Homo sapiens: one gene and its partners. The protein of the gene in region 4 interacts with the protein of the main gene of each other region in a pairwise test. Each region holds a gene or a part of one and is shown on either strand. Other genes may lie near its edges.

Evidence for each region.
Region 1: the proteins of KLHL26 (region 4) and ACIN1 interact in a two-hybrid assay, tested with the Homo sapiens proteins (one large-scale study listed by IntAct).
Region 2: the proteins of KLHL26 (region 4) and KCTD9 interact in binary tests that used the Homo sapiens proteins (3 or more experiments, as listed by UniProt).
Region 3: the proteins of KLHL26 (region 4) and UBQLN4 interact in a two-hybrid assay, tested with the Homo sapiens proteins (one large-scale study listed by BioGRID and IntAct).

What each region holds. Positions count from the first base shown.
Region 1 is NC_000014.9:23,085,137-23,088,636, forward strand, and holds part of ACIN1 (apoptotic chromatin condensation inducer in the nucleus), read right to left. Parts: intron 1-3,500.
Region 2 is NC_000008.11:25,434,434-25,437,933, forward strand, and holds part of KCTD9 (BTB/POZ domain-containing protein KCTD9), read right to left. Parts: intron 2,053-3,500; coding exon 1,985-2,052; intron 1,898-1,984; coding exon 1,802-1,897; intron 1,080-1,801; coding exon 930-1,079; intron 1-929. UniProt on the Homo sapiens protein: Substrate-specific adapter of a BCR (BTB-CUL3-RBX1) E3 ubiquitin-protein ligase complex, which mediates the ubiquitination of target proteins, leading to their degradation by the proteasome.
Region 3 is NC_000001.11:156,047,299-156,050,798, forward strand, and holds part of UBQLN4 (ubiquilin-4), read right to left. Parts: intron 3,256-3,500; coding exon 2,993-3,255; intron 1,362-2,992; coding exon 1,203-1,361; intron 1-1,202. UniProt on the Homo sapiens protein: Regulator of protein degradation that mediates the proteasomal targeting of misfolded, mislocalized or accumulated proteins.
Region 4 is NC_000019.10:18,660,036-18,665,241, reverse strand, and holds part of KLHL26 (kelch-like protein 26), read right to left. Parts: intron 982-5,206; coding exon 799-981; intron 1-798. UniProt on the Homo sapiens protein: May play a role in endo(sarco)plasmic reticulum (ER/SR) mitochondrial signaling. May be part of the ubiquitin-proteasome system (UPS) and affect ubiquitination and degradation of target substrates in cardiomyocytes.

The sequences.
Region 1 (3,500 bases), on a different chromosome or scaffold from region 4:
TTAAGACCATGGTGAAACCCCGTCTCTACTAAAAATACAAAAAAAAAAATTAGTCGGGTGTGGGGGCGGGTGCCTGCAGTCCCAGCTACTTGGGATGCTGAGGCAGGAGAACGGCGTGAACCTGGAAGGCAGAGCTTGCAGTGAGCAGAGATCGCGCCACTGCACTCCAGCCTGGGCGACAGAGCGAGACTCCATCTCAAAAAACAACAACAACAAGAACAACAACAACAAAGTCAAATAACTGAGTTGCAATTTTAAAATTAGTATGTACAAGCAAAACAGCCTCTTTATCTACCTACTGTGAATTATATGCTATTTATTGAATTATAATGTTATTTTTGATACTGTAAAACTGCAGTGATAGGATTTCTGGATGATTACTCCTCTGGAAGAACTTGTAGTAAGTCATCAAAGAGATCTGGAGAAATGAACAGGGCTGTTCAGAAAGTTCTGGTCATCACTGTTTTGCAATAAAAGCAGAAACTGGAGGCGCCTCAGACATGAAACAAGAAATTAGTCAGCAATGCAAAATATAAAGAGATGAGGAATCTCTAGTTCCTTGGAAAGAGCTGATGTGATGCAGACAAACTTCTGAAAAAGGTGATATCTTCTATTATAAGAACATGGCCACAATGAATGTCTTAGGCCAGATGTTAGTAACACGTGTAGACAGTGAGCGCTTTAGCTAAGGGTGGAGCTGATACTGATAACAGGCTAATAAATACATTTCAGGATTCGAAAAACAAGTCAGGGTAAATATTAGATTTCCAAGAGTCCAAAGCCAGAAGGCTTCACAGAAAGGAAAAGGCAGTTGCTAGACAATGCAGGATATATTAAAGTGCAGAATGTTTAAGGGTTATAGAGGAAATAGTTCTTCATCCTAGAAAACAAATTCCTGGGTAGGATTTGTGGGACCAAAGTAAGGAAGCCAGAGATCGAAGAAAAGCCTGTGGCTAAAAGGTAACCTTAGGTGTGAATAAGAAGCAGGAATGAAGAGAATACAGACCTGGAAACAATGCCAAACCTAAATCTGACTCATGTTAGACCTGTAAGTAAGTTACCTAGCATTTCTCTAGAATTTCCGCATCCAGGTTTTAATATGGAGAAAACGGAATGAGGGGCATACTCTATAAGCCAAAGGCTGGCTAAAATCACCTTTGTTAAAGAATCAATATTCTGAATATGCATTTAAAAATGTATTTTCTTAGTTTGAGCTCTTTTTGAAAAAATTAAGGACGGTAAGAATTTCTGTACACACAGTCATGATATAGAAGGAAATTCAGACAATTTATGACTATGGTAGGTGGATAATGAGTCCTAACACCTTAGAAATATCTGAAGAAAGTGATGGAGACATAAGAGGGAAAGTCAGACAGGATTTTATAAACCAATTATTTCTTTGAGACATGGTTTCACTCTGTTGTCTGCCACCTTGACTGCTAGGGCCCAAGCAATCTTCCCACCTCAGCCTCCCGAGTAGCTGGGACTACAGGCATGTGCCATCACAGTCAGCTAATGTTTTCTATTTTTTTGTACAGATAGGACTCACTATGTTGCTCAGGCCAATCTCCTGGGAGATCCTCCCACCTCAGCCTCCCATAGTGCTAGGATTACAGGTGTGAGACACCACACCTGGACAAACCAATTCTTCCTTCCTATTTGGAATTTTGCCAATAGCATATAAACAGGAGGATGCTGGAATATAAACCAAAGATCTTGATAAATTATAACACTGAAAAACTCTTCCTTCAGTTAGTCATTCATAAAATGAATTGGTCAACAGAACCACTCAGGGACTTTTTAAAAAATGTAGAGCCCCAGGACTCCCATTCCTTGAGATTCTTTGGGTAGGGGCCAGGAATCCATATTCTTAAACATAGTAATATTAAAACAAATAAAAAATCTCCCTCAGGTGCCAGTAGCGTTTAGAAAAATGTTAGTAGGAAACTTAATCAAAAATTGTTATTCAAGAGAGAACCCCAAAACATTCAAAGCCAACAAATAAGCTGCCATTGCAATGGCATACTGGCATATGGCAGACTGAGATTCTATACCTGGAAGAATCTGATTTCTGGACAAACACTAGGGTTAATGCTGATTCAACTAAGCACTGATAGAATTCCAAATGGCCACTCCATTCAGGACCTTAACTAAATTTTGTACAACATCTATAATGGGATTCTTATCTAAGCCAAGATCAGAGGTAGAAAAGTTTATGGCATAAAGGACACTGAAGAGCATTTACGGCAATTATGAGCAGTACTCTACAATTTACCACATTCATATTTTCCAATTTATTTTTCACCTTTTTTTTTTTTTAACGTCTGGGGTTTTTTTTTTCCTCCATCAATCATTAGCCATGGGCAGGGTCTTACTGATGACATAAAGCACTGAAAAGATTGGCTACCCTTACTCTAAATCTTTGCTTTTGAAATCTATTTCAGAAATCATTTCTCATTTTCATTTCGAATTATATTAAGAACTGACAGCCTCTCTTTTTAAAGAGAGGTCCTTATCAAATCATGGTCCTATTAAGAATTTTCAATGGTTCCCCCATTACCTATAGAACTAAAAAAAAAACCCTCATACTTACTGGCCTGGCATTTAAAGCCCTCTGTGTATCACCCTCATCTACCTTTTAAATTGTTTTGCTGACTATTCTTGAATGTGAAATACTCTACTCTGGCTAGATTAGTCTACTACCTCTCCTTTAAAAATACCATTTTCATTCCTATCTCTCTGACTTTGTTCCTTCCTAAAAATATCTTCTTGTATCCTCTCTGCCAAACCATTTCTAAGGCTCAGCTCAAATCCTGTATCTCCTTATGAGGCTTTCTCTAATCACTGTAGTCCTCAGAGCTCTTCCACTCTTTTGGTTCCCTATGTCTGTATCATTGTCACATACTATCTTCTGTTGTTCGATTTATGTGTAATTGTTCTCTCTTCCTAACAGACTTTATGCTGTGCTAACTCCCAATATACTCTCACAGAGATATGTATGCAGTAGGAATTCAATAAATTTTTTTTTGTTTTATGTGAGAAGAAATACCGACAATTTTAGAAGAGCTTTCTCTTTCCTCTCGGCTTTAAAATCAAGGGGGAAAGGGCGCAGGGAGCAAAGTGGATCAGCTGAGGGTCTACTACTCTCGTATTTCAGGAGAAAAGAGGTCCCTAAGGAACTTAATAATTCCAAAGTATTGGCCAGTATTTTCTTACTAAAAGATTTCTAGAAATGTCTTTCTGGGTCTAAGACTAGGATCAAGAAAAACAGGGACTGAGTAAAACAGGACCTTAAAACTAGACTCAAAGGCTCTCTATTTTCTCTAGCCTTTTGGAAAATTTCTTTCCCACCATTAAATGTCTCCTAAAAAATCTATTTCCATGAAGAGTCTATCGCTGCTCAGCCTTTTAACTAAAATCAAGTGTAGTCCATGAAGGAATTCTGTATTAATCAGAAGAGCTGGAAACCTCCATACATCCTAAAAACACTGATTATGGTG
Region 2 (3,500 bases), on a different chromosome or scaffold from region 4:
CAAACATCTTTTTTTTTTTGTCCTTAACACAAACAAAGATGCCTCTCGACATTTCACTATTTAAAGATTAGGTCCTTCAAACGTTTTTTTGATGTTAGTCTTTTTCCTGTTTTGCTACTAACCTGACCCTTCATGATAAGACAGAATAAAGGACAGTGAAAGTAACTAAAATGCATATTTGGTAGATTTTGTTACTCGCCCTGATACACAGCTTCATGGAAAAATAAGCTGCAGCTAATGAGTAAAACCCAAATTAGAGTAATTCAATAAATGACTACCAAAAGCAAGATGGTATTAATTCAAAAGACATACAGACACGGGCCTTGGTGGTAAGGAACTTAAAGTTGTTAAAAATTAATAGATTTCATTGTTGGTCTGCATATATCCTCTAACTTCAAATAAACACAGATAACTGTTATAAATACATACATATACATATATATAAATATACACATATATGTAGAGAGAGGGAAAACGCCACTGAGATGTTAACTTCCACAAACTGATGCATACCATGTTTATTTCAAAATATCTGTCAAATACTTCTTGAGCAGTAACATTTTCCCATTCCAGAAATGAGGCTGAATAGATTTCAAGGTTCCTTTCAGCTTTACCTTTACAATTAGCTGAAAATATGAGTCCTGATAAATAAAGTACAGTATATTGAGGAGATCAAGAACTAATTCCAAGATTTAATTTCTTATTAGTTACTAAACCTTTCAAGTCTATGTTTAATAAAGGATATCAAACCTGTAAAACCAAATTCATTTCACTTTCAGACCTTTAGTCTTATATCAACATAATAAATTATCTGTTTTCAAGTAAAAGCTCCAGTAAAAGATAGTTATAATTCCTGTCTCAAAGGCTCTTTGAGACTGTTCAATAGACTAAACATTTAATTTTCTCTTGTAGCCTAAAATGATACTTACGTCAAGCACTGATCCAGAGAGATCAGCTCGTTCAAGATTTGCACAGCAAAGATTTGCATGTGCAAGATTACAGCGGCTTAAATTGGCCATTTTGAAGTTAATGTATCGAAGGTCCAAACGAGAAAGATCAGCACCACTGAAGTTCAAACCCTGAAATAAAAAAGCACAAATTGTCACCATAACTAAATCGTCTGTTTGTATTAAATTTAATTACTATAGCTAACCACCAAGTTTTTTTTAGAAGCAATTGGCAGTTCAGTCACTTGGAGTTTATTACAGAACATGATAAAATGGAACTTAGATACATAAAAGAAGTGTCCTTAAATAGGTTCCTCATAAAAGAAACTCTATCAATATATACATTAGAATATAGCCCGGCTATAATTCATTTCTGTGTAGAAGCTTCTAAAGAGGGATCCCTGTTAGTCCTATACCTGCTAATAAGTATTTAAACCTAATTATATTTAAATTATTTTATTAATTCAGTAATTCAAAACAGTTTATTAGGCAAAAATGAGTACTGTGGTCTTTACAATTTGAAATGCTATAGTACACATAAGTAAAGTACCTGCCACTGATCAGCCCATATATTGCAAATGTACAAATACTGACTTTTAAAAAACTGCTGCAATTTCTATGCATTATTCATAAACTGTTGCATGAGGTATAATTAGACAATTTAAAAAGGCTATTATTGCATCTCTTTTTCGTTAACCATTTCAGAACTAAATCAATGCTATGACTCATAATTAAATTAGATCTTGCATGTAAAAGAAAAACAAAGCAAGATAATCCCAAAACACTAGAAGAATGTAAAATTTTATTCATAGATTTGCTGATAGAAATAATTGATGTAAAAGCCTGCTAATTACCTGGCATCGCAGTTCTGACTTGGTTGGAGTTGCTAGCAAAAATCGGACAAATTCCTTTCGGGATATTGGTGAATGATCCTCCGGTGGTTGAGAATTCTTAAAAAAGACATTAAGAAATTAGTGGAGTCTTTTGGGAGATAGCTACAATGAATGTAACACTGGCTAATGTAAAAACAGGCTTACCTTTATTGCCACTTCTAGGTGTTCAATCAATGAGTCAATACCAAAAAATCTTGCTTCTTCTAACACACCTATCAGAACAAAAATAATTCTGAAACAACCTAATTTAGTGAATGTATTACATTCATTTTGAATTTACTAAAATACGATTAGTTCACATAATCTTAACATTTAATTGCCTTTTTAAATGGAGCAGATCTGAACAGGTTTGCCACAAGTATCTTTTACATACTGAATCAGAAAATGATAGAAATGAATAAAAGTTTAAAAAGTACAAAAAAGTCAAAAGTATAATTCAGAAATCTGTCTTATAGGAGAATAAATTTTAAAATATTTGTAAATACTAAAAGAGCTTTCATTTATCATTTACTTTAACTTGGTAAAAAAAAATGTACATCCTTTACATGACTTGGTATATTTACTTATTCTAATCTGTTAATAAACATCATCAGAATGTGTGGGAATACATTTGGGTTCCATTATCTTTCAAATGAGAAGACCTCAATCAGTTGGCTGTTGACTCAGTAAAAAACTACTTAGAACTCTGGAATTACAAAGAAAGTATCAGACATAATCCCTCCCTTCAAACACTTACAAGCTAATAAGGGTAAGTAGATACAGAAAACCAGAAGCAGTTATTTGGGAAGAATAATACAATCTTTTCTGTGAAGACCAAACTCTATGGTCAACAATCCAATTGTAAAACAAACGTCATCCAAGGTACAGCATCGGGCTACCACTCTGGCATACAGGGTCCACATTTCCCCTTCAAGAGGCATCCAAAGATTATGCCATTCCGTTCGGATATATATCCCTGGTGGAAACTCAACATATTATAAAAGAGGTTCTTGTGGGCCACGCTCTCAATTTGCCAAGGTCTAAGTAAAGCAGAACTCTTAGGGAATGCAGCCAGGATACGTTTCCAATTCTAGGTTTAGAATTAAACCTTTAAAACATCCAGAGAAGCCATAGAAATACAAAAGACAGGCCGGGCTCACACCTGTAATCCCAGCACTTTGGGAGGCTGAGGTGGGTAGATCACTTGAGGTCAGGAGTTCGAGACCAGCCTGGCCAACACATGGTGAAACCCTGTCTCTACTAAAAATACAAAAAATTAGCCAGGCGTGGTGGCAGGTGCCTGTAGTCCCAGCTACTCGGGAAGCTGAGGCAGGAGAATGGCGTGAATCCAGGAGGCGGACCTTACAGTGAGCCGAGATCGCGCCACTGCACTCCAGCCTGGGTGACACAGCAAGACTCCATCTCAAAACAAAAAAAATACAAATATTAGCTGGGCATCATGGTGTGTGCCTGTAATCCCATCTACTTGGGAAGTTGAGGCAGGAGAATCACTTGAACCCAGGAGGCATAGGTTGCAGTGAGCAGAGATCACACCATTGCACTCCAGCCTGGGTGACAGAGCGAGACCCTGTCTCAAAAAAAAAAAAAAAAAAAAAAAAAAAAAAAAAATCTGGATTTGAATCCCAGCTCTGCCACTCACTACTTTTTGGTGTTAGTGAAA
Region 3 (3,500 bases), on a different chromosome or scaffold from region 4:
AGTGGCACGATCTTGGCTCACTGCAACCTCTGCCTCCCGGGTTCAAGCGATTCTCCTGCCTCAGCCTCCCAAATAGCTGGGACTACAGGCATGTGCCATCATGCCCGGCTAATTTTTTGTATTTTTAGTAGAGATGGGGTTTCACCATTTTAGCCAGGATGGTCTCGATCTCCTGACCTCGTGATCCGCCCACCTCAGCCTCCCAAAGTGCTGGGATTACAGGTGTCAGCCACTGCGCCTGGCCAACTTTTGCATTTTCAAACATACAAACATAGAATGTGTTTAATGTAAAATTAAATTTTTAAAAAGAACCATGGCCAGGCGCGGTGGCTCACTCCTGTAATCTCAGCACTTTTGGAGGCCAAGGTGGGCGGATCATGAGGTCAGGAGATCAAGATCATCCTGGCTAACATGGTGAAACCCCATCTCTACTAAAAATATAAAAAGTTAGCCGGGCGTGGTGGCATGTACCTGTAGTCTTAGCCACCAGGGAGAAGGCAGGAGAATTGCTTGAACCCGGGAGGCGGAGGTTACAGTGAGCCGAGATTGCGCCACTGCATTCCAGCCTGGGCGATAGAGCGAGACTCCATCTCAAAAAAAAAAAAAAAAAAGAAAGAAAGAAAGAACCAAAAGGGCACTGAAATTATATATGGCAACATGTTAGGGCAACATTGATTAAAAACAAAAAAAAAGAATGTTACATTTTTATCTATTTTTTTGTGTGTACTTGAATAGGATTCATAAAGCATTTTTAAAAGTGTATAATCCTGGGGCCCAACCCCAGAAATGGATTCAATAAGTAGCTCAAAGGTGGGGACCAGGATTCTCATTATCAACAAGGTCCCCAGGTGATTCTGATGCAGGTGATCCATGGACCATACTTGAGACATGCTGTATCAGGGCTGGCGTCTGACCTCAGGCCTGCCACGTGACCTTTGAGCCCCTGGTACAAGAAGTTTGTCAGGATGTCAAGTTCCTTGGATGCTATGCCTCAACCACTTCCACAAGGACCTCTGCTTATATTTGTCCATGCCAAAATGGACCATCCCCGGATATGTACTGTTGAGAACTGCCTTCAAGCCAAGGCCCACCCCTCAGGGGACTGGGGAAAGAAAGAAGAGCAGGCCCAGGTTTGCCTGGGGTGGGGGTAGGGAATCTCGAGCCCAGACAGCCCAACCCACTACCCTGGCCCTTGATCCCACCTGTTCCCGGGCAGCACTGAACATGGGCTCCTGGATGTCCGTGTACATGCGGCGGAGGGCATTATACCCTCCAGGGATGCTCTCAAGGTTGCTCAGGGCCCGGTCCTGGTTCCGCATCATCTCTTGCATCATGGCTGGATTCCGAGCAAGCTCCATTGTCTGATCAAGGGAGAGAGACAAAATGGGCCCCGGAACCAGGGGAGCACCAACCTAGGAAAAGGGTGGGCCTTGAGGAAGGGGGGTCTGTATCAGGATCAGGACCAGGGCCCAGGAACTGCCCCACAGTGACAGGGAGTAGAGTAAACTGGACTTCCTTCCTCTACTGTAATCTTGGCTCCAAGCCCGCCTCCCTGTGGGTATTTTGGTTGGCTTTTTCTAGTGGAGGACAATGATCCCAGCTGAAGTGAGGGCAGCAGCTTCCCTCCCTTAGGCTCAGAGTGTCCAAAGAAGTGTCAGGGTGCACAAGGAAACTGAGTCAGAAGAGACACAGAAAGAAAGGGGAGGAGGCAGAAGAGAAAATTAACATCTACTGAGAACCTACTGTATATGGGCACAGGGCCAAGTAGCTTACGGAATTCAAGTCATGTAATCTCCACAATAACCATCTCAGGTGTTTATTTCTGTCCCTATTTTGCAGATGAGCAAATAGGCTCAGAGATGTTAATTGACTTGCTGCCCTGGGACACACAGTCACTGAGTGGTGAAGACAGTGTTCAAAGCCAGGTTGGTTGGTCTGTCCAAGACCATACTGTGATTCCTGGTAAATGACTGCAAGTTGGGGAAGGAAAGCGTTCAAGCTGGAATAAAGCTACTGACACCCTGTAATTCCCACCCCCAAGTCTTTGCTCTGCCTGAACCTTGAGAAACACTGAAGATGGGGGCTTTCTTCTATGGAGCCAATGGCACAATCTCAATAAGGGGTGGCTATGTCAACCCCGGGGGAGTTCATCACAGAAAAATAAGTATAACTACTTGTTCCCATTCAACTTGGAATACCTTCCCTCTCCTTCCCAAATGTGCTCCACACTTGCCTTTTCTAAGACTCCTTTATAACTGATATGCCCAGCTTCCCAGAACTCTGATCTCTTGTTCCGTAATTCATTCATTCAATAAATATTTACTGCATGACTACCACGCACCAGGCACTGTTCTAGACAGTGAACAAAACACTCACAAGTCCTTGACCTTACATAAATTATCTTCTGGTGAGTCCAGCACTGGTGTCCACAGCCCTGCTGGGAAGATCATCTACCTTGGTCCTCTGGTGGAGCGGACCATGAGCTGGAACTCCCAAAGAGCAACATCACAACAGTCTCCCCTGGTTCTCCATTCCCAACTGGGCCCTGCCCAGCCACAGTGCTCCCCAAACAACCTACTATCTTTCACTCCCAGGCCTTTATATTTGCTGTCCCTCAGCCCTGAATGTTCTTCTTTCTTTCCCCCTGGTTCGTCTTCCTCCTTTGGGTCTCAGCTCGGTGACATTTCTTAAGGCCTCCTCTAAGCCTTAGGGTAGGGTCAGGAGCTCTTCTCTATGCTCCTAGAGGATCCCATGATTATCCTTCTGATAGCAATGGCCACATTGTATTCTAATTGCCGGTTTACTTGTCCTACTTCCCTTTGACACCTGGAATTCCTGAAAAGCTAGGCCTGTCTTTTCATCCCTGTACCTCCAGTGTTCAAAACTGCTGAATACACGAATGAACAAATCAATGTAGGACAAAGTAGGAAAGGCTGGGCAGGGCACGGCTGGGCACCAGTGTCCTCCAGCTCTCCAGCCCTCTCATACTCACCTGCCTCATGAGTTCAGGGTTATTGAGCATGTGGCTGATCTCAGGGTTCCGCTCCATCAACTGCTGCATCTGGGGGTTGGCCATAATCATGTGACGCATCAGATCAGGGTTAGACATCATATCCTGGACCAGGGGGTTCTCCATGATCTGTGACAGCATCTCAGGATTGGACATCAGCTGCCGCTGCATCTGCTGCTGCAGCTCCATGAAGTTGGCAGAGCCCAGGCCTAGGCTGCCCAGCCCCAGGATGCCCCCAAAGCCAGCTGTGGGAAGGGGGCAGGGTCACAGTCTGCCACAAGAACAGTGTCCTCACTTAGCCAGAGCCACTGAATTCAGATCTCCAGGACACGCCCCAAATGCTTCTCACATGTCCCTCTTCCTGTCATTCCCACAGCCCGGCCCTGATCCACTGCTGGCAAAAAAATGTGAGCCTACTAGACTGAGGCTGTGCCAAACATAGAACTGAGCAGAGAGAAGGCAACCAGCAATGGTCTGTTGAATGAGTGGC
Region 4 (5,206 bases):
TACTAAAAATACAAAAAATTAGCCAGGTGTGGTGGCATGCGCCTGTAGTCCCAGCTACTCGGGAGGCTGAGGCAGGAGAATCGCTTGAACCCGGGAGGCGGAGGTTGCAATGAGCCAAGATTGTGCTACTGCACTCCAGCCTGGGCGACACAGCGAGACTTTGTCTCAAAAAAAAAAAAAACAAAACAGATCAAAAACCTGGCCAAGCCCTGCCACCCTGCATGCAGGGTAGAAGTGAGTGGGTGCCCACAGGCCATCTCTGTCCCTCCAGGCATGTTCTGCCCAAAGAGAGTAAGATGCAAACTCCGGGAAACCTGCAGGTTTACTGGACATTAAACCTCTCTCTAAAATCAGAAGGGGCCCGGAGCGGTGGCTCACGCCTATAATCTCAGCACTTTGGGAGGCCAAGGCAGGCAGATCACGAAGTCAGGAGTTCAATACCAGCCTGGCCAACATGGTGAAACCCCGTCTCTACTAAAAAATACAAAAAAAATTAGCTGGGCATGGTGGCGGGTGCCTGTACTCCCAGCTACTCGGGAGGCTGAGGCAGGAGAACTGCTTGAACCCAGGAGGCGGAGGTTGCAGTGAGCCGAGATTGTGCCACTGCACTCCAGCCTGGGCAACAGCGCGAGACTCCATCTCAAAAAAAAAAAAAGAGCAGCCGGTACCAGCCGTTCTCCCTCGAAGCTGTCCCTGGGTAGCGCTGAGACAGGCCCCCTTTAGAAAGTGGGTGCCATCTGCCCTGTCCCTGTCCCAACAGGCAGCCGCCCCTTCCAGCTGCCTGGGGCCAGCACTTACCTGAAGTAGTCGCTGCAGGCAGCCAGGACGACCTTGTGTGCAGGAAAGGCCTCTCTGTTAATAGTCAGCACAACATCGAGGAGCTGGCCCTGAGCGCGGAGGGTGGCCAGGCCCTGCAGGAGGCTGGTGCTGTGGCTGGGTGCCGAGAAGGTGCACTTGAGGGCCCCGTTCTTGTCGGCCGTGCTGCGGGGAAAGCAGAGGTGGGGACATGGCCCAGAGGTTCACACACACACTATTACCTTGAACACAACACTCAGTGCAAGAAGCCAGACACAAAAGGCCGCACTGTGTATGACTCCACTGACGTGAAATGCCCAGAACAGGCAAATCCGCAGAGACAGGAAGCAGATGGGTGCCACCAAGGGCTGGGGGAGGGGAGGGGGGAGTGACTGCTGATGGGGTGGGGTCTCCTTTTGGAGGGATGAGAATGTTCTGGAACTAGACAGAGGTGGTGTTTGCATACCACTGTGAATCTACTAAATGCCACTGAATTGTCCACTTTCAGACAGTTTTATGTCACGTGAATTTCACTTCAATAAAAAAACCAAAGGACACACGGGAGCCTTCTCAAGTCCCCTGCAAGCCCCGCCACAGCCCCCTGCACCCCAGAGTATACGAGCCCTCTGTGGTCCAGCCCCCACTGCCCCTACTGCCCCCTCATCCCCTCTTCTCCAGCCCCACCACCCCTTTGCTATTTCATTTGGGGAAACTGTTGAACGGATCAATGAATTAATAGCTTAGGAGCCGTTAACACACCACTTCTTCCTCAGAACACAACAGGGGGTGGACCCTGGTGCCACCTCCAGGATCAGTCCCCTCTAAGACCCCCACCCCCACCGGGCTGAGGCACCCTGCTCTGTCCTGGTGGCCTCTGCCCTCTGGAATTTGCTCTCCCATTCCTGGGACCCACGCCTGCCTGTAAGCAAAGGCCAGGAATGCGGGCACTGATCTTTCCAAGAAAGCGGGAGGAGACGGAAGGCTCCTTGGCCCCACTGCCAGCCAGCCCCAAAACCACAGTGGGCATTAAAGAGCCAACGTCAAACACAGGGCACACAGTGGGCACTCAGTCAACATAGCAGCTGCCACCGGAGGTCCCTGACCTCCCCTTCAGACCACCCTTCCAGAGACCCTTGGGAAAGGGTGAGTGATCAAGACAAACTGCCGGGGAGAGGGGCTTCAGGGCCAGGCGCTGACCACAGCCCTGCAAGGCACCACAGGCAGAGAAGTTGCCCAAGCCCCAGCCCTGCCTGCGAGGCACTGCATGTCCTAGAGGGTGGGGACATAGCACGAAGGACCCAGTGTGGGGCCTGTGCTCAGTGGAAAGCCTTTGAGTCCCTGGGGAAGCAGGACATATGCTACTCAGAGCCCAATGCCACGGTCATCTGGGCTGGCCAGCAATGCTGCGGTGCTGGGGGTGCTGGAGCCCAGACCTGGTGTTTGCCTGGGAGGGTGGGGGTGCAGCCTTTTGAAAGCTGAGGAGGGCAGGGAAGGAAAGGGGTCCAGGTGCACCCTGAGACTCTGGCTTGTCCCCGTGGCCTTTCCCCTGCCAAGTGGAAGGGACGCTTACCTCCCCTCCTCCCTTCCTCCCCTCCCCACACATCGGCCCCGATCCCACTTGACCAGGCTGCTGCCCTGAGCCAAGCCTTGGCTCTTTTTTCCCTAGACCCATGACAGATCCAGATCCGAGGCTTGTGAGGAGCATGTCGCAGGCTCATGGGCCGCTCTCCCCTATCCAGCCCCCCACAGGGGTCCAGCACCTGCCTGGACATCTCCAGGGCAGGGTCTCATTGCTTCCCACGAATGGCATGCCCTCTCACCGACACCCTGCGACGGGTGTCCAGGCTGCCTGGGGCCAAAGCCGCATCCTGCATGTGCCTCTGAGGACCCTCAAGGTCTCTCCTTGTCCCCAGTTTGCCTCACTGGCTTTGCAAACTCCTCTTCCCTGCCCGTGCATGCAGGGATGCTGCGTAAATGAGACGAAGTAGGCCCCGTCCTCATGGGCACGCGGTCCAGGCAATGGGGACCAAAAGGGGTCAGATCACCCAGAATCAGCTTTGTGTTGCAGCTGTGGCAAGGGTTGTGCATTCGGGCTCTGGGTGACCCCTGCCGGCCTTTCTGTGGACACTTTGTCTCCCAGAAGTATGCATGGGCCTTGCCAGCCTTTGCCATTTTGATTTTGGTCTGGTTTTTCCTTAGAAGTTCAAGGAGATTTGCGGGGAGGGATGGGAGGACTTCTCGTGCCTCCTGTAAAGCCCTTGGAGGCAGGTGTGCATGTGTACATTTTCATCAGAAGAAACACGTTGCACTGGGACAAGTTCACCACGGGGCCACTCAGTCCTTAGGAGCATATTTACCATGCTCTTCCATATATAAAGAGCATCAAGAAATCAATACAAATTAGCCAGGCATGCTGGCATGAGCCTGTGTTCCCAGCTACTTGGGAGGCTGAGGTGAGAGGATCACTTGAGTTCGGGAGGTGGAGGCTGCAGTGAGCCATATTTGTGCCACTGCACTCCAGCCTGGGTGACAGAGTGAGATCGAAAGATGCACAAAGAATGTGGGCTAATGGTTCCCAGGAAAGCAAGCAGAGCTGGCTAGAAGGACGTAAGAGTCAGCCTCGCTTGCAGTCAGGGAAGCACACTCTCGGGGGGCTTATGAAGCAAGGTGACCCCCAGGAAGGCAGCTGCGTAGACTCAGCAACACTCTAAAGGCTCATGTCCTTTACCCAAGAACTCTATTTCTGAAACTTACCCAAATACAATCTCTAGGGGCCACAGACGAGAAATAAGCTAACCACCCTTAAAGGAGATTCGTGGAATCACAGCACCTTCTGAGTGAGGGCTGCCCTATAGATGGGTGAGGAGGCTGACGCATCCTGGGGAAGATGTTGCATGCAGGGGATGACGTCAAGGCTGCAGGAGGAAGGAAGAGGCAGAGTGCACACAGTGGGATGCTATTTGGGCTCAAAGTGCCACACATATGCATCTGCCCATGAGTGCACAGAACATATCTGGAGAACTGAGAAGTTGGACAGAGAGGACCTCCCTCTGGGGAGGAGAGGAGCTACTGCCCTGCACCCTGCTACTCTGATGACTGAGGAACAGGAAACCAGGGAGGTGGGCCAGTGTTCCAAACATGGGATCTGTGGGTTCCCCAGCAAGCAGAGAGGGTGCCCGGAACCCAGAAGGCAGGATCAGTTCAGCTGACTGGCAGGGCATCTCAGAGGAGACATCAGGGGCCAGCAGCCTGGGCCAAGCCAGCTCTGGTTAGCTGGGAACTCAGCAGTCACTCAACCACCCAGGCCTCAGCTACAAAGCAGGGGCAAATGACCATCCAGCTCCCCAGCCCCAGGGCCGCTGGAGGATGAGATGAGCAAACGCAGAGCCCTGGGACCCAGGCTGCCACTAGCACGTGACGACTACACACTCGGAGAATCTGGATGCTCCCATCTGGAATTTAGGACACCCCAGGCCCAGAAAGCAGGGTGAGGCCCATCCACTGCTGGTTACAGGGCACAGGGCCCACGCTGGACCAAAGAGGGGAGGAAGCAGCTTGTCCTCCCCAGGCCTCCTCCTCATGCCCTGGTGATGCCTGACGCGTTCCACATGGCTGTTTCCTTCCTCTCATCTTAGGGATGGGACAACTGTCCCTGAGGCCCCTGACGTCACCCTCACTGCCGCCCCTGTGAAGCCAAACCCACCCCACTGCAGCCCCTCCTGGGGAACTCAAGGAGGGAGGAGGCCAGGAGGGGCAGGAGTCCCCCAGCCTGGACGGAGAAGCGAGACGCAGCCTGGGCGGAGGTGGGCAGGCGGAGGAGGGAGGGCCGGGGCCAGGGCTGATGACTAAGGTCCTCTCCAGCCGGCCACTGGGAGGAGGGGAAGGACCCATTACTCAGGCTGGTCCAGACAGGGGGCGGCCGGCACGGCGGGGCCACAGGCCCCCAGGAAGGCGGTGGCCCTGAGCCGGTCCGAGTCTCCAGACGGCCACTCGAGTGACGGTCACCCGCACGTGAGTCATCGGAGCCAATGCGTCAGCAGCCCCGGCCAGGGCCGTCTCAAGAGGCCATTGCTGCCCGCCCTGGCTGCACCCTCTGCCCGAATCTGGCCTCTGAGTGGCCACACGCCCCCGCTACAGGCCTGGCCCGGGCTAGGGGCCATTCTGACACCCGCTTGCCGCTGTATCCCCCCAGCAATGTCATCGGGCACCCTAGCCAGGCCCAGGCCTGTGCTGGACCCAAGGACACGCCCAGGTCTGCCCTGGCAACACCACCCCTGCTCCTCTCAGATGTCCCAGTGCAGGGATGTGCTAGGGCTAACATCCAGGGAGCCTGGGTGGGGTAAACTCCCCCAGGTGGACCACCTGTTATGGGATTCCCGAGATCTCCAAGGGTTGCCCTGGGACCACCTGC